Linked DNA regions of Homo sapiens. The protein of the gene in region 3 interacts with the protein of the main gene of each other region in a pairwise test. Each region holds a gene or a part of one and is shown on either strand. Other genes may lie near its edges.

Evidence for each region.
Region 1: the proteins of PTPN9 (region 3) and TMCO2 interact in binary tests that used the Homo sapiens proteins (3 or more experiments, as listed by UniProt).
Region 2: the proteins of PTPN9 (region 3) and SLC7A1 interact in binary tests that used the Homo sapiens proteins (3 or more experiments, as listed by UniProt).

The regions. Positions count from the first base shown.
Region 1 is NC_000001.11:40,243,625-40,250,945, reverse strand, and holds the start of TMCO2 (transmembrane and coiled-coil domain-containing protein 2), read right to left. Parts: upstream 3,010-7,321; 5' UTR 2,953-3,009; coding exon 2,716-2,952; intron 1-2,715.
Region 2 is NC_000013.11:29,508,905-29,515,705, forward strand, and holds the end of SLC7A1 (high affinity cationic amino acid transporter 1), read right to left. Parts: intron 5,680-6,801; coding exon 5,576-5,679; 3' UTR 510-5,575; downstream 1-509. UniProt on the Homo sapiens protein: High-affinity, low capacity permease involved in the transport of the cationic amino acids (arginine, lysine and ornithine) in non-hepatic tissues.
Region 3 is NC_000015.10:75,520,316-75,527,341, reverse strand, and holds part of PTPN9 (tyrosine-protein phosphatase non-receptor type 9), read left to right. Parts: intron 1-80; coding exon 81-224; intron 225-3,043; coding exon 3,044-3,133; intron 3,134-4,096; coding exon 4,097-4,221; intron 4,222-7,026. UniProt on the Homo sapiens protein: Protein-tyrosine phosphatase that could participate in the transfer of hydrophobic ligands or in functions of the Golgi apparatus.

The DNA.
Region 1 (7,321 bases), on a different chromosome or scaffold from region 3:
CAGGATGTTCTCAATCTCCTGACCTCGTGATCCGCCCATCGTGGCCTCCCAAAATGCTGGGATTACAGGCGTAAGCCACCATGCCCGGCCTTAGCAAAATATTTTCACACCTATTTCATCTTTTGATTTTCACTGCAAACTGGAGAGGTAGGCAGGTCAGGCAGGATTATTATTTGCATTTAATCAAGATTGTAATAATAGATAACCATTTTCTGAATGTCTGGAAGTAACTTTGCCTTTGCATGATCTATTTATGCAGAAAAAACACAACTGGATAACTATATACCTTCTAGTTTGAACTCTGTCATTGTCCAAGGTTATATATTGGAAGTGGCAGAGCCAGGACAGGAATCCAGAAATTCACACTTCCAAGTACACTTTAGGACATAGTAGTCTGAAAAACTGGATTTCTTGGTCATGGAAAAGGTTTTTAAAATATACTAGGAGAGATCTGGGTACAATGGCACACACATATAGTCCCAGCTACTAGGGAGGGTAAGGTGGGAGGATCACCTGAGCCCAGGAGTAGTGTGCTATGATGGCACCTGTGAATGGCTACTGCACTTCAGCCTGGGCAAGATAGCCAGACCCTGTCTCTTAAAAAAATTAATGTATATATATATATATTTTATTTATATAAAATAAATTATAGGTGTGGACCACTGCATCCAGCACTTTGAGAGGCTGAGATGGGAGGATTGCATGAGGCCAGGAGTTAAAGACCAGCCTGAGCAACATAGTGAACGTAGCGAGACCCTGTCTCTACAAAAAAATTTTTAAAATTAGCCAAGCCTGGTGGTGCATGCCTATGGTTCCAACTGCTCAGGAGGCTGAGGCAGGAGGATCACCTGAGATCAGGAATTTGAGGCTGCAGTGAGCTATGATGACACCACTGCACTCCAGCCTGGGCGACAGAGCAAGACACTGTCTCTAAAACATAAAAAAAAAATAAAAAATAAAAATAAAGCATATGCTGGGCACGGTGGCTCATGCCTGTAATCCCAGCACTTTGGGAGGCCAAGGTGGGCGGATCACCTGAGGTCAGGAGTTCGAGACCAGCCTGGCCAACATGGTGAAACCCTGTCTCTACTTAAAATACAAAACATTAGCTGGGTGTGGTGGTATGCGCCTGTAATCCCAGCTACTCGGGAGGGTGAGGCAGGAGAATTGCTTGAACCTGGGAGGCAGAGGTTGCAGTGAGCCGAAATTGCACCATTGCACTCCAGACTAGGGGACAAGAGCAAGACTTCATCTCAAAATAAATAAATAAATAACAAAAGAATATGTATAGTAGGACAGATTCTTGCTAGGATAAGAAAAAAAATCATCTTGTTCCTTATTATAACAACTAGCACCACTTTTTTTTTTTTTGAGACACAGTCTTTGTCGCCCAGGCTGGAGTGCAGTGGCACGATCTTGGCTCACTGCAACCTCCACCTCCCGGGTTCAAGCAATTCTTCTGCCTCAGCCTCCTGAGTAGCTGGGACTACAGGCGCGTGCCACCACCACACCCGGCTAATTTTTGTATTTTAAGTAGAGATGGGGTTTCACTGTAGCACCACTTATTGAATATATGTGCTAAGATTTACACATACAATATCTTCTTTAATCCTCACAATACACATATATATGCGCATGCGCGTACACACACACACACACACACACACACACACACACACACACACACACATTCCTGTTCAAGATTTAGGTCAGTTGGTTTGCATTAAATGAGATTTTGGAGAAGAACTGAATTTCAAATCCTAAAAATTCGATTCAAACTCCAATTTTGCCAGCTCTTACAAACTATGTGAACTTGGGTGGGTAGCAATCAAGTTCTCTCATCTACAAAATGGAGCAAATAATCTCTCCCTGACTGTTATGCAGGATTGTGATGGTTTAAAATAGAAAGGCCCCGTGACCATGATTACTAAACAATAGTGACATATGAAAATAAGTGAATGCTAAAAAATGATCCAATAACAACTTCTCTCTGCATTTATCAAGTAAACTTGTCACTCTAAGAAAGCCGTTTTAAAAGCCTGTCACCTTAAGTTTCCACTGAACCTCAGTGCACCTCAGTTTCTTCACTTGTCATGTGAAAATAATCTCCATCCATTTCATGGAATTTTTGAGATTCTCAAAGCATTCAACTATATTGTATGTCAACTATTATTATTGGTGACTACACAGAAGTATGTAAAATCCTGTCTCTCACAATCCCAGCCAGTTAAATTCCTACTCCCCAAAGAGCTCCTATATACTTATGGAGCCTTATCTTGTCAAAACACAATAATGAACACATTGTGATGACTTAATACATATGCCTCCTTATCAGTTACAGAACAATGGCATAGTAAGAAAGGCCATACTCATGATCCTAGCTACTTTGGTGCCTATTGTATAAACATAGTAGCACTCAAAGATGAATAAGTGATCAAAAATTTTTGAGGGTAAGGCTGTCTTTTCAGGTTACCAACATGTTTGGTCTATTTTATTACAGAAGACAAGCCAAAGACCATTGTGAGAAAAGCATTTTTATGCCCAAAGCCTAATTGGTGGAGATTTTCAAGGATAACCTAGTTTTTGCCAACTTAAGAGACAAAGGTTCGCCTTTGCACATCTGCATGATCTTAAAACTGGTGGCAGCAATATGGGAGAGAACTAATCAAATTTCAATTTATAACTATATAAATGTTTGTAACAAAAGAGTATAACCTGAATTGACTGAATACTTCGTTTCCATAAGGCATATATTCCTATTCCCAATAAAATCAAGAAAGAAATCCTCAAGATGATTTGCACAGCTGGAGCAAGATTATCTAATAGTCCCAAACTTGTTTGCTGAGGTGCACTAGTCTCTCCCAAAAAACTTGCTTGTATCCAATTCCATACTGTGCTGAGAGAGAGAGACTCTAAGAGGTTGTCCCAGCTAGAAGATGAAGATGTTGACATTTTAATAAGCAGCAGCTCTAGGAACTACATGTGCAGAAGCTTCAGGAATCTAAATATGAGTTAGGGGGAGTAGTCTGGAGGCCTAGGTATTCCAGAGCCATTGTGAGCTGTGCTTTGTGATGTCACTGTTCCAAAGGTCAGCTTGCTTCCCACTCACCCAACCAATGAATCTTACTCAAAACCAACCAGGCACCGGCCTGGGTTTTCAGTTCATTCATATTGCTTTGTCTGATCTTTGGCTAGTTCTGGCTCTAGCATAGTGCTGTCCAGTACAACTTTTTGCAATAATGAAAATGTTCTTTATCTGCCATGTCCAATATGGTAACCACTAGTTACCTGAAATGTGAATAGTGCAGCAGAGATTGCATTTTACATTTTAACTAAATTTGGCTGGGCATGGTGGCTCACGCCTGTAATCCCAGCACTTTGGGAGGCTGAGGCAGGTGGATCACTTGAGCCCAGGAGTTCGAGACCAGCCTGGCCAACATGGTGAAATCTTGTCTCTACTAAAAATACAAAAATTAGCCTGACGTGGTGGTGCACACCTGTAGTCCCAGCTACTTGGGAGGCTGAAGCAGGAGAATCACTTGAACCTGGGAGGCAGAGGTTGCAGTGAGCTGATGTTGTGCTCCAGCCTTGGTGACAGAACGAGACTCCATCTAAAAAAAAAAAAAAAAAAGTTAAATAGCCACCTGTGGCTAGTGGCTTCTCTCTTGGTTAGTGTAGATCTACATTTCCAACAATTCAAATGGACAGCAGCTGTTGCAGCTGTTTTCACATAATAAAAAAAACTGAGTTGTATTGAGGTTGAATGGAAATGTGAGGAGATGGGATTTTTTATTTTTATTTTTTTGAGCTGGCGTGTCACTCTGTCGCCCAGGCTGGAGTGCAGTGGTGCGATCTCAGCTCACTGCAACCTATGCCTCCTAGGTTCAAGCGATTCTCCTGCCTCAGCCTCCTGAGTAGCTGGGATTACAGGCGCCCGCCACCACGCCTGGCTAATTTTTTGTATTTTTAGTAGAGATGGGGTTTCACCATTTTGGCCAGGCTGGTCTAGAATGCCTGACCTCAAGTGATCCACCTGCCCTGGCCTCCCAAAGTGCAGAGATTACAGGCATGAGCCACTGCACCCAGCAAGGAGGTAGGATATAAACAGGGCTTTTTTTTTTTTTTTTTTTTTTTTTTTTTTTTTTTTTTGAGGCGGGGTTTTGGTCTCGCCCTGTCTCCCAGGCTGGAGTGCAGTGGCGCAATCTTGGCTCACTGCAACCTCTGCCTCTGGGGTTCAAGCGATTCTCCTGGCTCAGCCTCCTGAGTAGCTGGGATTACAGGCATGTGCCACCACGCCTGGCTAATTTTTTTATTTTTAGTAGAGACGGGGCTTTACCATGTTGGTTAGGCTGGTCTCGAACTCCTGACCTCGTGATCCACCCGCCTAGGCCTCCCAAAGTGCTGGGATTACAGGCGTGAACCACCACACTCGGCCTTCAGTTTACCTTTAATAGTGGCATCCACCCACTCATCTGTCAGTCACTTCCACTCAGTAGTCTTCCATATCATGCCCTATTAGGACTTACTGACTTAGGCAATGCCTACTTTCAAGCCTTTGGTAAATTCTTTTTTTTTTTTTTTTTGAGACAGGGTCTCGCTCTGTTGCCCAGGCTGGAGTGCAGTGGTGCGATCTCAGCTCATTGCAACCTCTGCCTCCTGGGTTCAAGCGATTCTCCTGCCTCAGCCTCCTGAGTGGCTGGGACTACAGGCACGTGCCACGCCTGGCTGATCTCTGCATTTTTAGTAGAAATGGGGTTTCACCATATTGGCCAGATTGGTCTCGAACTCCTGATCTCAGGTGATCCTCCTACCTTGCCCTCCTAAAGTGCTGGGATTACAGGCATGAGAAATAGCACCCAGTCCGCCTTTGAAAAATTCTTATAGGTTCTTCATTGTCTTTCAAACAAAATCCAAAATCTGTAACATGGCTAACAGGGCACTAAAATGCCTGGTCCCTGCTTACCTACCAAGTCTTCTCTTCCTCTGCCATTTGTTCTTTCAACTCCAGCTATAGTAGTCTTATCAATGTCACCAACACACCAAGCTGTTGAACCACAAAGCTTTGGCACATAATTGGATTACTCTTGTTCTTTGCCTAGCTTCCCCCTCCTCCCCCAGCTTGGAGGTCAATGCCTATTCACAGGTGCGATTATTGCACAGTACAGCCTCTAACTCCTGGGCTCAAGTGATCCTCCTACCTCAGCCTCCCGAGTAGCTGGGACTACAGATTATTGCCTGGCTAACTTCTATTGATTCTTTAGGTTTCAGTTTAAACATTATCCTCAATGAAGCTTTTGCTGTCCTTTTTTGGTCCCCTTCTCATAAGCCCCTCCACCCCCCCTGTTTAAAAGCACTTTTACTTTATTATTTGTACTGTTTTAATGTCTGTCTTCCCTACTGGATTATTTTTTTTGTTGGGGGTGGGGAGGTTGGGGGCACAGGGTCTCACTCTGTTGCCCAGGCTGGAGTGCAGTGGCCTGATCTTGGCTCACCGCAACCTGTGCCTCCTGGGTTCAAGCGGTTCTCCTGCCTCAGCCTCCCTAGTATCTGGGATTACAGGCGCATGCACCACTACAGCGCGGCTAATTTTTGTATTTTTAGTAGAGACAGGGTTTCACCATGTTAGCCAGGCTGGTCTCAAACTCCTGACCTCAAATATCCTCCTGCCTGTGCCTCCCAAAGTGCTGGGATTACAGGCATGAGTCACCGCACCCAGTCCCTTACTGGATTCTTAAATCTCTATGATGCAGGAAATGAGTCTTGTTCAACACCTACCACCCAGGGGCTAGCAGATGGTATATGCTTTGTAAATATTTGGCTTCTTAACCATTTAGATAGCTTTCCTACGCCTCTGGTCTTTTTTTTCAGGTTATACCTGTCAAATACATGCTGACAGATTTTTAAATCTCTTGCCTATCCTGGTTACCTTCCCCAGAGTGAATCAAACCTCCAAATGCAGTCTGTCACAGAAGCCACTCCTGCAGGAGTAGACCAAGAAGGTCACAGAGGGATAGGCCACTCTCTCTAGACACAGTTCTATATAATAGGGTATAAAATCAGTAGTATAAAGCCAGGAGGTATCACAGTTTACCTTGGGGTAGGAGGTGAGGAGGAGCAACTTTTCTGAGTTTTAGAAGTTTCTGGCCGGGTGCAGCGGTTCATGCCCGCAATTCCAGCACTTTGGGAGGCTGGGGTGGGAAGATTGCTTGGGCTCAGGAGTTCAAGATCAGCCTGGGCAACCTAATGAGACCTCGCCTCAAAAAATAACAAAAATGAGTAAGTTTCTTTCAGAAAAGAAAACTTGCCTTTTTCGTAGGTTACATGTTATTCACAGAAAAAAATATGCACGTTTCCCATCTCTATACTCAAATGAAGAAATGTCAGCACCATATGACTGTGGAGTTTGAGTTGAATAACCTGGCTTTCACCTACACTTCAAATTGTATTTCCCACTATTCACCTTCACAAACAACACTCACATTACAGAACTGTGGTATTTTTGGTACTTCAAATACCACCTGCAACTTTCCATCTGTTATTCCTTTACACTAAATGTCCCTCTCTGACATTCTTCTAGTCAGAAGAGATTGGAAACTGGGCTCCACCTCTATTTGTGCCAGCCAGGCAAGACACTTCATCTCGTTCTTTGTCAAATATAGTAACAGCACCTACTTCATAGGATTATGAAAATTCAACAACATAATTTTATGTAAAATGCTAAAAAGCACAATTACCCTGAATTCTCACAGTACTTTCCACTTCCAGGCCAGTGCTTCTAGAACTTTTCTGTGCCTAAGAATCACCTGGAGATCTTACTAACACGCACATTTTGGTCCAGTAGGTCTGGAGTAGGGCCTGAATTTATGCATTTTTATTAATAACAATCTCCTAGGTGACACCTATACTGCTGGCCCACTACCACACTTTAAGTAACAATGTTCTGAGATACTCCAGCCCTCCCTTCACCTTGTGAAAGCTTCTTGATGGCCCTGACAACTTTTTTTTTTTTTTGTCTCCCATTGCATCTGGAATTGTATCTCTTTAAATGTGTGTATTTAAATATTTGGTGAATGATTATGTCTTAGGCAGTTCAGCTCAGTAGGCCTTTTGGGACTGAGAAAGGATAGATTGAGAATGGAATACCCTGAGGAAGGCTAATAAAAAACTTTCTCCTCCACAGTTCCTTACCCTATTTCACACATGGGCTCATGAAAATGGGGAAAACACTGAAGCAAGAGAATTCTGGGTAAAGGCAAGAATAGAAGTGTCTGGAAGTCTTCATTCCTACTCACCATTTTGGAGGCACTCTTGAATTGAAAAA
Region 2 (6,801 bases), on a different chromosome or scaffold from region 3:
AAAATGGATCCTTTCTCAAGGGAGTTGAGGGAGTGAGATAGTAACAATTACCAGGATAGCTACACTCCCCGACAGCCCCTCCGCCCTGCATGCACTCTGCTCCCTCTAACAGGATAGTGTATGTGCAGGCCAGCACAGACTGGGGCGGCAACAGGTGAGGGCGTTTTGTTGCCAGAGACCAAGTCCTTCAGCAAATGCCTGACAACTGGCAGCCTCTGAGCTGCTTTATCCCAACAGCTTGGTTGGAAGGAAGACCTCTGTGGCCCCAAAGCCAAATAAATCTGCAGACAGTATCAGAGATCCAAAATGGGGGCTCAAGGGATTCTCTGGTTGAGGCTCAAATTGTTGGAATAAGGATTTTCCCCAAATGGCTACAGGAAAGTGAGAAGATAGGACTAAAGTCACGGGCTGTGGGGAAGCAGAGCGGGATCTGGAACTCTCCATGGGGCACTTCCAGGCCTGGGTCCCAGGAGAGACCCACTAGGATTCTTGAGATCACACCATGCACATGGAAGCCATAGAATTTATTCGAATTTGCAGAAGCATGAGATAATGTACCACAAAAGAGTTTGATTTTACAACATAAAGTATGGTAGGAAGTGGTCAATGTACACAGTGTTGTCAGCAAAAAGGGGAGGCAGGGCAGTTTCACATTTTTTGAAAGGTGGTGGACGACAACTACACTTGTCCTTAAAGTAAAATAAAAGCAGGAGAGACCCAGCAGAGACCAACCTGATTTGCAGTTAGCATCAGAATCTAAATCTAGTATCACAACTTTAAGAAACTAAAAGAAAACTATTAGAAAAATAGAACATCAAACAAGCAAAAAAATATACAAATGTACATAATAAAAAACACACAACTCTTAATAATGGCTCCATGTTCAGTAGAAGAAAATATTTACTGGAGAAACCACAGCTATTCAGGTTTGATAATAAACCAACCCTCATTGGTATCATTACCCTTAGTGCTCCTTAAACTCATTGAAGCTGAAAGGCACAACTTAAGCAGGAAACTTATCATCTTAAATATATATTATAACTTCTCAAATGGGAAAATAAGTCCCAAACTTAATAGTCTGTCATCAAGAAACACAAAATCATTTGCCTTGTTAATAAATTAACAGTCTGAGTGCATCTTTCCATCCTGCTTCCTGACCCTGCTGGACACACTAATAAATACCCTGAGAAAATCTTCTCTTTAAGCTTGGCCAAGGTACTCCATCTCCTGTGGGGTTTTCAGCTGGCACTCAGCACATTTGTAGAATGACCCAGGAGGGCTCCATGGCAACTGTGCCCCGAGACTCCAGGCCCAGCCGGGTCCCGATGGCGAGAGCGTTGTGGCTCAGTGAAGCACTGGCACAGAAAGGCTGGACTCGAGGAATCGAGGGGTGAAGATGGAGTCGGCTGACATTTTTTGCCTTAAAAATACATTAGGAGTCATAAGCGTGATGACACATGGAGTGTAGCTTCTTGCACCACTGGATCAACAGTAATCAATTTCATGACTCGGATAAGGTCCCCAGGAGCCTGGCAGAATGTACATCTCCCTCTCCCTTCAGAGCCTTACATATAATCTTCTCATGACGATGGCAAACAGATATATTTTAAATTACACGTAACAATTATACATAGTGTATATCCAGATCCGTCTGCAGGCGAACTCTGCATCAGTTCCACATATAAGCCTCACGCCCCCACCACCCTGCAATTTCCCCGTCCTCGGAACTGTCTCACGAGACCACCAGCGCACAGACACGAACATGCCTCTCACACACCCCAGAACGCAGCTGTGCTGGAGTTGGGCACAAAGGCCCCTCACTCCCTGTCTTCATGGTGTGGGTTCTTGGCTGCCAACAGAACTGTCAGCCTTTATTAAGAAGGAAGGGTCTGTGTAAAAATGGGATGTGTGAATCAGAAGAGGGGCCCTGGCACAGAGCCAGGCAGGCTTGCTTTAGCATTGAGTCCTGCGTCGCGCAATGCCCAGGACCTTGCCTGTTAAGTCTGGGTGGGGCCCCTATGGGGCATGTCCACGTGCCCCCCACCAGACTCATTGCCCTGTCTCCAGTCTCCACTGTGGGTTGGGCTGGAGGCCATGCCACGTGGGACTGCAAACACCAGCCAGTTCACAATGCCTGCTCCGTGGCAGGGGCACGGCAGGGAGGAGCTGGTATCATCAGCGTTTCCACCCATCTGAACAAAGGTGAGCGGGCCATGCACCCTTCCAGCTGTGCACAGGGATGTGCTGAAGGTGCAGGAGGCAGTGCGTCAGGGCCTTGGTGGCTGGGGTAGGTGGAGAAGCCCGCTGCCCCCACCATCCTGCGGTCACCCCTGGACTCGTATTGGATCCTGGCCACTGTGCTAGAGTCAGCACAAGGGACCAGGTGGCTGGCTGCCTGAGAGAGAAAATAAGTCACAGTGGAAAGAGTTTTTACTGCTGCAAAAACCAAAAGTGGGGGGAGATCTCAGCAATTCTGACAACAGTATACATTTAGCGACCTTTCTGAGACAGCCTGGGGAAAATGCATCTATCACTGTCCTCTTGATTTGGAAAAATAAATCCGATGCATAAAGCCTTGGACAAGGGTGTGTGAGCAGGGATGATAAGTAGAGTGGGGGGTGTGTAGAGGCCTGGTCTCCTCCGGACGGTGCCCCTCCCAACTGCAGAGCTGCCCTCCTGTAAGCCGGCTCCCGAGCCAGCTGCCAACAAGGCCCCCACTGCCTCCCTGGAGACCCACTTCATCCCCCTCTTCAGCAGAGGTCCTGAGGCAGGGGGGTGGAGATCTGCTGGGTTTGCTGCTTCATGAATTTGGGCCTTCGGAGGTCATGAACACATGCAGGGCAGTCACAGGGGTTGTGGGAGACAGGAAGGGATGTTTACCCATCACAAATGGGTCTTTCCAATGTGGGTATTTGTGGCTGGTGCACAGATAAAAGTAGACACAATACTCCTTGGTGGGTGTGCCTCTAGTAATGTGTAAGTTCTGACTATGTAGGAAAATCCTGGCCAGTGGAACTAAGAATATTCTTGTTTGGGCAAGGGAACTAAGAGATGTGAAACTATCATTTTTTTTTTGCTTGTGTGTATTTTTATTTCAGGGAAAGAAATGAGGGATATGATAAGAAAAAGTCTATTAAAATTGTAAGGCTTACTCCAGACACCATTGCTTAAATCACTCCCCTCTCACACAGAGAGAAAACCCCTGGCAAGTGCACAAAAACACTACTCATAAAAGCACGGTGACCAGTGAACTATTATGCAAGGCACCCCCACGTGTCCTTTCCTAACCAGGAAGCCCGTCCTCTAAGGAGGGGGCATGGGTCCCATCCCTGCCCAGCCTAGGCGTGCTTCTGTGTCCAGCTTTAAGGCCTCTGCGTGAGGAAGGCCACAGACTCCCAGCTGTCAGCACGCTGTCATGATGAGACTTGGAGCAGGGGAGACGCACCTTCTCAATCTACAAAATGAGCCATGGCGCCCATTAAAATGTCAAATGTCAACTCTAAATAGTCTATTGGGTGCTGTCTTGCACGGAAATCTCAGCCAGAAAGAAAAACTAGAGAAAAGAAAAAAAAGAAAAAAGCAATTCTCTCCCACCACTTCACTTTTCTTGGAGACTGTCTATCCCTCGAATTCTCTTTGCCTATGTAGAAAATAACGGAAAAAAAAATCAAGCAAATAACTACCAGGTCCTAAGACAAGAGACAACCAAAACCCCAACAAAATAAGTTAGTATTTATCAAAATATGTTACAACACCAATCTCCATAAATGTCAATATCACTCTTTGGAAATCGGAGCTCTGGGCTCTTATGATGCTCCCTCTGGAACATTCAAAATGAGATCAGAATAAAGCTCCCAGCAAGGTGAGCAGGCCTGATACGGAGGCTCAGCCCATGGCCATCCACCCGCCCTCCACCGCCGTGTTCACAAATTCTTGCACTTCTCTCCAAGAACCTTCTGGGGGCACAGGGAGGGTACAAGTGCCCTCAATTTATCAGGCTTCTTTCTACCAGATTTGTGTCAAAGGCCAGACTAGGAAGAAATGGAAAGGAAACTAAGTTTTGAAAGCAGCATTTCCATTTCCCCTGGTGTCCAAAATGCCCACATCCCTCCTCCTCCCCCATCAGCATGGGCCTTCTGTCTCCTGAAGTAGACTCAGTGGAACGCTCCACCCACGTTCAGGTTTCCTCTGGCTCCCATCTACAAGGAGTGTGTGTGAAATGGTGCTGGCCGCAGGCCCCGACCCAGGCAAGACGGGGGTGGCGTGCACTGGAGCTATGGGGGTGGGGAGGATGCTCGGGTCTCTCCCACTTGCAGAGGCGTGGGGTCCGAAGCATCCGGATGACAGATACACAAAAGGGACAGCAATATGCCTAGAAATCACCTCCCCTGCGACCCACGCATCTCAGCTATAGGACAGCCGCAGGGGTGATGACATGGCCATTTCCAAGTTAATGTTATGCCCTAACTTAATCTGGTGGAGTGTCACAATTTCATGGACTGTGGATTGATTTCAATTTCATCATGTCACAGAGAGGCCAGACAGCTTATGTCAGGGCCAGAAACGCATGACCCCGACATGTCCTGACCCCAGACTGAGCTGCCACCAGCCTTGAGAACCTTACAGGAGCCACCAGACTGGCTCCAAAGCATGGGAGGGCAAGACTGAGTGAACGGTGGCGACTCACAGGAAACAGACTTCTGACTCGGCCACCATGGGGCCAGTCCTGCAGATACTGTCTCATGTTCCAGTTACTCAGGACACAGCCAGTCGGGGGAGACGGCAGGAGCAGCAAGAACTGGCCCAGGCCTGGAGGCCGTGAGCTGAAGGTCCCTGGTTTACATGCATGTGCACACACATGCATAAGCAAAGCAGGCCCTAATGGGAGTGATCCCTTCTTCCTCATTTGAGTGGAGCCAGCTGCCCTCAGCCCCGGGCAGCTGTCATGGTGTCAGAGCAAAGCCCTGAGAAGCCAAGGGGCAGGCAGGGTCCGGCCCTAATGACCCATCTGAATGCAACCGGAGAAGGACAACAGGCCTGATTTTCCTTTTTAAGTGCACTACTGTCATTTGGCTCTGGGGTGGGGAGCTGCTGGGGACACACTGTTTTGTGGTACTCATCTGGCTTGATTGCTGGGTGTCTGGGGCTGAGCGGGAAGATGGCTGCGAAAGTTTGGAGTATGCACAATTTCAATCCCAGAACAGTCCCCGGGAGGAAGGCCTGGTTCCCAAGATAAGGAGAGAAGGTGACCTCCGTTCTGCCTGAGGCTGCGGCAGCTCGGGGCTGAGCTGGTAGGGGAGGAACTGCTTTGTTCAGAGAAGTGAGGAGACACAGTGGCCAGCCGCAGCCTAGTGGCCCCGGCCAGGCAGCTGTCTGGAGGTGACCAGGGCCCGGAGAACCGGCTGCAGAGCCGAGGGTGGGCTGGGGCTGCAGGTCAAGTAATTGCACCTTTGGCTGCAGTGAGGGTGTGGACGCAGGTGGTTTCTGTTGCACTGGTGGGGAGGGTGGGGTGCCTCCCGGTCCTCTGGGGGCGTCCCTCGGGGCTGCTGCCACCTCCGGGGGGCGGGGCTGTGCGTCACTTGCACTGGTCCAAGTTGCCGTCAGGAGTCCTTGCTTGGTCGGCATCCAGGGACGCCTCCTCGCTGTGCCACAGGCCATAGCCAAAGTAGATGATGAAGCCTGCGGGCCGACAGCAGAGACGGGCGTGAACAGACCGCCGGTTGCACCACCGCAGGCAGGGCTCAGAGCCCAGGGCGGTCCCACAGCAAACCCTCTCAGGCGGCCTGCCCCTGCCTGGCATGAGCCCGCAGCCAGCGGCCCCTGTGACCTTTCCACATCTGGAGCAGCTGCCACACGAAGGCCACTGTCTGCTTCGACATCTGGCAAAGCCCTACGTTCCTCTGGACGGCCTTATGCTGCGGTGTTTCCTGAGCAGACAGAGCAGCTGGGCCAGGGCCACCAGAGGCCATCGGGTCCTTCAGCTTAGCCCCCTGATGCCCCCGGAGGCCACGAGAGTATCGAGAATGTGCACTATGGAGATGGGGTTTCCCGCAGGTGCTGGAGGTCTCCAGGCTCTCAGCCTGGACAGTCCCACTGCCCATTTCTCCACATAACTGAGCGTCAGACTGCAGGAGACACTGAGCCCCAGGAATGGACTTCACATAGGAGTCCACAGCCTGTTCCTGCACACGGGACTCCAGGGTGGGTCCAGGACCTATGCTTCTTACCACCTGCCCAGGGGCTGGGGCCACCTTGTGTGGCTGACACAGGAAAACAGGCCTTAAAGCAAGGACTCAGCCACCCACAGCCCAGGAAAGGAGCTCAGGCTCCTGCACACAGGGACTTTGACAGGGATGCTGGGAAGAGGCGCCCCTCTGCCTTCACCAGGCCTGGAGGAAGTGGCCAGTGAGCTGTGAGCAGCTTTTTCTCAGAAAGGCTCTAGGAGACGTCTGTCTAACAGGCTGGACTTTGCAGGGAATGAGGACCCACCCGGCTGCCAGCAGACAGTGGGCCGCAAAGTATTTCCTGGAGGAAAAGCACCCCTCGAGGGCCCTGGGAGATGAGGCAGCAGCCATCTGCCCGTAGCATGCAAACTCAGGGCTGCGAGGCTGTAGGGACATGGTCCTGAGGGGCAATGGCCAGGGCCACTTTCCTGGCTATCAGCACTATGACTCAGATGCTGAGGGGAAGGAAATGAGATCCTCCCCTCCAGCCCCTGGGGTGAGATGCCCAGAGGCGTGGGACTACAGGCTGCACCCACCCCTGGTGATCTATCTCATGTGGAAGCTCCCCACCCTAGTG
Region 3 (7,026 bases):
ATAGTTTTCACTTGTTTGTTTTTTGACTCCATAAATATGCTCTCTTCTTACTAATTATTCTTTCTTTCTTTGTCAAACAGGCTACCAAGCAGTTTCTCGAAGAGATTAACAAGTGGACAGTTCAGTACAATGTTTCCCCGCTGTCTTGGAATGTGGCTGTCAAGTTCCTCATGGCAAGGAAGTTTGATGTGCTCCGTGCCATAGAATTGTTCCACTCCTACAGAGTATGTGGCTCAGGGGTAGACCAGACCTGTGGCAGTTGGGTTAAGTGTTGCTGTTGTCCCTGTCATGCTCGACACACACATTGGTTCTCTAAGTGTTCCTCCTCACTTTCATAAAAAATGGATCCATATCCAGGAGCCCTTGTGAGAGCTGAAGCTGGGCAAGGCAGCTACTGGAAGGCACTACTTTTGTACCTAAGTTTTGATCGTAGACCAGGATGCCACATCTAATGATTGAGACGGAGGAAGTAGCCTGACAGCATCCTGGTGGCAGGATAGGGGTTCACCCTTCCTAGAGTTTTAATCCTAGCTCTTTTCATTGGCCTCTGGCCACATGAAAATCTTGGTTTTCAGGTTGTCTAAGGCTTTTAGAAACTTGCCATTCAGATGAATGATGAGCTTAGTGGGCAGTTCAGGAAGGGAAGTTTTAACACTGGAAAAGAAGAGCAACTGTGTATTAGCTAGGTCCATTATCTTAAAGTATCTTTATGCAAATGTAGCGGCATCAGGATTTTACTTTGTTTTGATTTTTGTTTTTTGAGGGGGCATAGACTTTGGTTTTGTGCTTGTTTGCTTTCTCAGTTAGTAGTGTCTTTGATAAAACACTATACAGCATGTTACTTTGGGGTCAGAATCCTTCTAAAGAAATACAAAATCTCCCTAAAAAAAAAAATTGGGATAACAAGCACTAGGATTAGCTTAACTGAAGTTTGGTTACATCTGTCTTGTGGACCAGCTCATTCAATATTCATTCATTTACTCAACAGATACTTATTTTATACTTACTGTGTTCCAGGTGCAGAGATTACTATTTAGAAAGAGAGACTAGGGCTGGGTGCGGTGGCTCATGCCTGTAATCTCAGCACTTTGGGAGGCCAAGGCAGGTGGATCACTTGAGGTCAGGAGTTTGAGACCAGCCTGAACAAAATGGCAAAACCGCATCTCTACTAAAACTACAAAAATTAGCTGGGTGTAGTGGCACCTGTATTCCCAGCTACTCGGGAGGCTGAGGAGGGACAATCACTTGAACCAAGGAGGTGGAGGTTGCAGTGAGCCGAGATCACACCATTGCATTCCAGTCTGGGCAACAGAGTGAGACTGTTTAAAAAAAAAAAAAAGAAAGAGAAAATAAACAAAGAGTTGTAGAAATGTTATGATAAGGCAGCACTGGATTCTGTGGAAGCACTTTTTTTTTTGAGACAGAGTCTTGCTGTGTCTCCCAGACTGAAGTGAAGTGGCATGATCTCAGCTCACTGCAGATCTCTGCCTCCTGAGCTCAAGTGATCCTCCCACCTCACCTTAGCCTCCCGAGTAGCTGGGACCACAGGCATGCACCACCATACCTGGCTAATTTTTTGTATTTTTAGTAGAGACGGGGTTTTGCTATGTTGCCCAGGCTGGTCTCGAACTCCTGAGCTCAAGTGATCCACGCACCTCGGCCTCCCAAAGTACTGGGATTACAGGCATGAGCCACCGTGCCCAGCCTAAGAGGTTTAAAACAAGCGGTTGATGAAATAAGACAAACCAAGATAATATTTTTTTGTTATCGGTATATAAAGGTAGAGAATGTCTCCGGAAAAAGGAAGTGTAGGTGGTCAACCTTGTCATTTAAGAGGAGAACTGAAGAGGCTGGGCGCGGTGGCTCATGCCTGTAATCCCAGCACTTTGGGAGGCCGAGGCGGGTGGATCGCTTCAGCCCAGGAGTTGGAGACCAGCCTGGGCAACATGGCAAAACCCCGTCTCTACTAAAAACACAAAAATTAGCCAGGCATGGTGGCACGTGCCTGTAATCCCAGCTACTCAGGAGGCTGAGGCAAGAGAATCTCTTGGACGTGGAGGTTGCAGTGAGCCAAGATCATGCCACTGCACTCCAGCCTCAGCAACAGTGTGAGACTTGGTCTCAATTAAAAAAAAAAAAAGAATCTGGCCATCAGGGTGAGGAAAATGAAGTCATGGTAGCTGCTGTTGGAGACAATATCAGGTGGAGAGAAGGCTCCTATTTAAACATAGGAGAGGCCTAAACCTAGAAAATATGTGAGAACGTAGGCATCCAGACATTTTTGAGGTCCATATTTTAGTGTCCTGGTACCATGTCAGTGCTGCTGCGTGTTTAAGAACCTTGATCCTGCACCTGAATGTAACATACTGGTTACTCTTCAGGGTTAGGGTTCTTACTGAGTCAGAGAAAAATACCCTACCTGAGGGGCTGATAAAGTAGCTTTGGACAGGAATTCCGAAAATGCTTGACTGGCTTGGAGGCAGGTTACAAAGAAATTCATAATTCATTTAGTTGACTTCATTATTCATTTAGCTGAATTCTTTTTTTTTTTTTTTTTTTTTTTTGAGACAGAGTCTCATTTTGTCACCCAGGCTGGAGTGCAGTGGTGCTGTCTTGGCTTACTGCAACCTCCACCTTCTGGGTTCAAGCGATTCTCCTGCCTCAGCCTCCTGAGTAGCTGGGATTATGGGCGCGCACCACCATGCCAGGCTAATTTTTGTATTTTTAGCCGAGACAAGGTTTCACCATGTTGGCCAGGCTGCTCTCGAACTCCTGACCTCAGGTGACCTGCCCGCCTTGGCCTCTCAAAGTGGTGGGATTACAGGCGTGGGCCACTGCGCCCGGCCCATTTAATTGAATTCTAATTCAACTAAATGAAGTAGAATTGGTTATGAAATTAGTTACAAAATTTATTTAGTTATGAAATTTATAATTCATTCATTCATTGATAACCACCTTATCTCTGAGATTTGGTGGTTACATGGTGCTGTCCTGGATATACAGTATTTTCATATTAATACATTTTGCTGTGCTTCCTTTTTAGGAAACTCGAAGGAAGGAAGGCATTGTAAAGCTGAAACCTCATGAGGAACCTCTTCGTTCTGAGATCCTCAGTGGAAAATTCACCATCTTAGTGAGTGTTTAGGGACCTATCTTGTAGGGCCTTATTACTTCCTTTTTTAACTGGTGTCCTGTTTGGACTTTGTTTTTTTTTTTTTTTTTTTAATTTTATTATTATTATACTTTAAGTTTTAGGGTACATGTGCACAACGTGCAGGTTTGTTACATATGTATACATGTGCCTTGTTGGTGTGCTGCACCCATTAACTCGTCATTTAGCATTAGGTATATCTCTTAATGCTATCCCTCCTCCATCCCCCCCTGTTTGGACTTTGTTCCTATATACCTTATCCTGAATCTAGAGAGTCTCCACAGTTAGGAGCAGATGTGAAACAGCCATGCAGTTTGGTATAAAATTATTTTAGTAACAATTGAATTACTAATAGTTTCTAGTAATTAGAGTTACTAATGATAATTGAATAATTGAATTATGGAAAATCAGTTGTACAGTAGACTTAGAAAAGTTTCTTCAGTTGGTCCATTAAGGTTAGTCATGGTCTTTGGGAGAGATATGCAATGTGTCAGACACCCATGCTTCCATATTTAACGCAAGCTCTCCACTTAGTTGAGACCTCAGCCTTTCAAGTAAACATACAATGGCACTTTTAAGGCAGAGGGTGGAAATCATGGTCCTGTTCCCTGGTTCTCTCCTGCTGCTTGTTTCTTTTGCCATTCTGCCAGGGAAGTTAGCTAGGAAGCCAGTGCACAGCCATCCTTTGATCTGTCTGTAGTTGAAGAGCAAAGAGAATGTGTTTTTTTTTTCTTACCACAGAAATATGGTCCAGGGAGTCCTGGGAGAATCAGACAAAGGATGATATTAACACTCTTCCCTTTGGACAGCAATTGGTGAAGTCAGGGAATTATTGTTAGCATCTGTTTTCTACATGTATCAAACCCTTATCCAGTATATAAGTCTTAGTAATTGCTGTGATTTTCTATTTGATTTTTTTAATGTTTCTTGTTTTATTTGCTTTAGAATGTTCGGGACCCAACAGGAGCCTCCATTGCCCTCTTTACTGCCAGGTTGCATCATCCCCACAAGTCAGTCCAACATGTGGTACTTCAGGCTCTGTTTTACTTGCTAGACAGAGCTGTGGATAGGTAAGCATTGAGATTATTTTTTAGGTATTCTACATGCAGGTAGGAAAGTGACAGTTTTTTACTTGATTAAATTCAGCAGTGCCTTCGCCATTCTCCTAGGATGTGCCCTGGGCAATGCTATGAATAGAAAACAATCCATGTCCTTTAGAACTCGGCATGTTTGCAGGCACTATCAAGATGGTGGGCGTTCTCTTTACCACCTTGGCTCTATGTCAGGAAAACAGAAGCTGAGAAAGTCAATTATCGGCAATCTTCAGTGTATGGAAAACTACTTATTGGAAAAGAATGAGGGGGAGATGACCTGTGCTGGTTCTTTTTGCTCATATCAGAACCTCTAAGGCCTCAGTTTCTTTGTCTGCATAACAGGAATAATGCCGTTTAGTTCAGAGGATTTTGAGACTCAACATTCAGGGGAGGGCTGGGTGCAGTGGCTCACACCTGTAATCCCAGCACTTTGGGAGGCTGAAGCAGGTGGATTGCTTGAAGCCAGGAGTTGAGACCAGCCTGGACAACATGGTGAAACCCTGTCTCTGATAAAAAATACAAAAAATTAGCTGGGTGTGGTAGCGTGCACCTTTAGTCCCAGCTTCTTGGGGGAGGTGGGGGAGGTTGCTGAGGTGGGAGGATCACTTGAGCCCAGAATGGTGAAGCTGTAGTGAGCCATGATCACGCCACTGCATTCCAGCCTGGGTGACACAGCAAGACCTGTCTCAAAAAAAACCCCACAAAAAAGCCCACACAAAACAAACAACAACAACAAAAAAACATTCAGGGAGAAGCCCAGAAGTATAAAGTTAAGCAAAAACCATCCTTAATAAAAAGAGGTGCATAAGCATAAAGAACCAGCTCAGGTCATCACTCTCTTCCTGCTAAGGTAATTGGTATTGTTACAATTCAATTGACAATTAAACTCAAGCCCCAAGAAGTTTTTTACAGTCATCATATGTTAGTCCAGCTGGTTCTAAGATCCTGGTTTCTTCACTCTTGGGCAGAGTTATTTCTGTCCTCCCATGCTGTTGTTCTGCTATTCCTTTTTCCCTGGTGCTTGTAATTTACAGTTTCTTACTGCTCTCGACATCTTTGGCTGGTCCTCCGGATTAGAAGTGCTATATTGAGGCCAGGCGCATTGATTCATGCCTGTAATCCTAGCACTTTGGTTGGCTGAGATGGGCAGATTGTCTGAGCCCGGGAGTTTGAGACCAGCCCTGGGCAACATGATGAATCCACTCGCTTCTTGAGGGCAGGAAACTTTCTTTTTAACATCCGAATCTCTGTAGGTTGAGAGAGAATGGTATCGTGAACATCCACATATCCATCATCCGTCTTCTTCAAAGTGATCTGTAACAGTCTTGTTTCATTGGTAGCCCCTCATGGATCTCCTATCCTCAGTTTCTTTCTTTTTTGTTTTTTGAGACTAGGGCTTGGTTTGTCACCCAGGCTGGAGTGCAGTAGCATGATTGTAGCTCACTGCAGTCTTGAACTCCTGGACTTAAGCAATCCTCCCATCTCGGCCTCCCAAAATGCTGGGATTACAAGCATAAGCCATTGCATCTGGCTTCTCCGTTTTTTTAAAACCAATGTCAGGGACTGTATTTTAAACTTCTTGGTGTTTTCTGTAACATGTAGCTCAAGAATTAAAAAAATATTTTTTTTATTTTTTTTTTCCTTTGAGACGGAGTCTCGGTCTGTCCCCCAGGCTGGAGTGCAGTGGCGCTATCTCAGCTCGCTGCAAGCTCCGACTCCCGGGTTCGTGCCATTCTCCTGCCTCAGCCTCCCGAGTAGCTGGGACTACAGGCGCCTGCCACCACGCCCGTTTTTTTTTTTTTTTTTTGTATTTTTAGTAGAGATGGGGTTTCACCTTGTTAGCCAGGATGGTCTCGATCACCTGAGCTCGTGATCCACCCACCTCAGCCTCCCAAAGTGTTGGGATTACAGGCGTGAGCCACCGTGCCCGGCCCATTGTAAATCTTAAACTGGGTGCAGTGGCTCATGCCTGTAATCCCAACACTTTGGGAGGCCAGGTGAGAGGATCGCTTGAGCCCAGAAGTTCGAGACCAGCCTGGGCAACATAGCAAGGCCTCGTCTCTACAAAAAGTTTAAAAATTAGGCAGCCAGGCATGGTGGTATTTGCCTGTAGTCCCAGACACTCACGGAAGGCTGAACTGGGAGGATCACCTGAGCCCTGGGAGGATCACCTGAGCCCTGGGAGGATCATCTGAGCCCTGGGAGGTCGAGGCTACAGTGCGCCATGATTGTGCCACTGCACTACAGCATGGGCAACAGAGTAAAATGCTGTCTTAAAAATATATATATTCTGGTGGCTCACGCGTGTAGTCCCAGCACTTTGGGAGTCCAAGGGGGTGGATCTCCTGAGGTCGGGAGTTTGAGACCAGCCTGGCCAACATGGTGAAACCCCGTCTCTAGTAAAAATACAAAAAATTAGCCAGGCGTGGTGGTGGGTGCCTGTAATCCTAGCTACTCGAGAGGCTGAGGCAGGAGAATCACTTGAACTTGGGCGGAGGTTGCAGTGAGCAGAGATCGCACTATTGCACTTCAGCCTGGGCAACAAAAGCGAACTCTGTCTCAAAAAAAAAAAAGTATATGTATATATATACACACATATATAAACACACACACATCTATCTATCTATCTATCTATCTATCTATCTATCTATCTATCTATTCTATACCCTAAAGTGTGAAAATCTTACTGCATTCATGTTTTATGTGCCTTCACAGGATGAGCACTTTGATCTGGGAATATAGAACCTGGATCATTCATTATGCATCCAAGCTTCTTTTTTT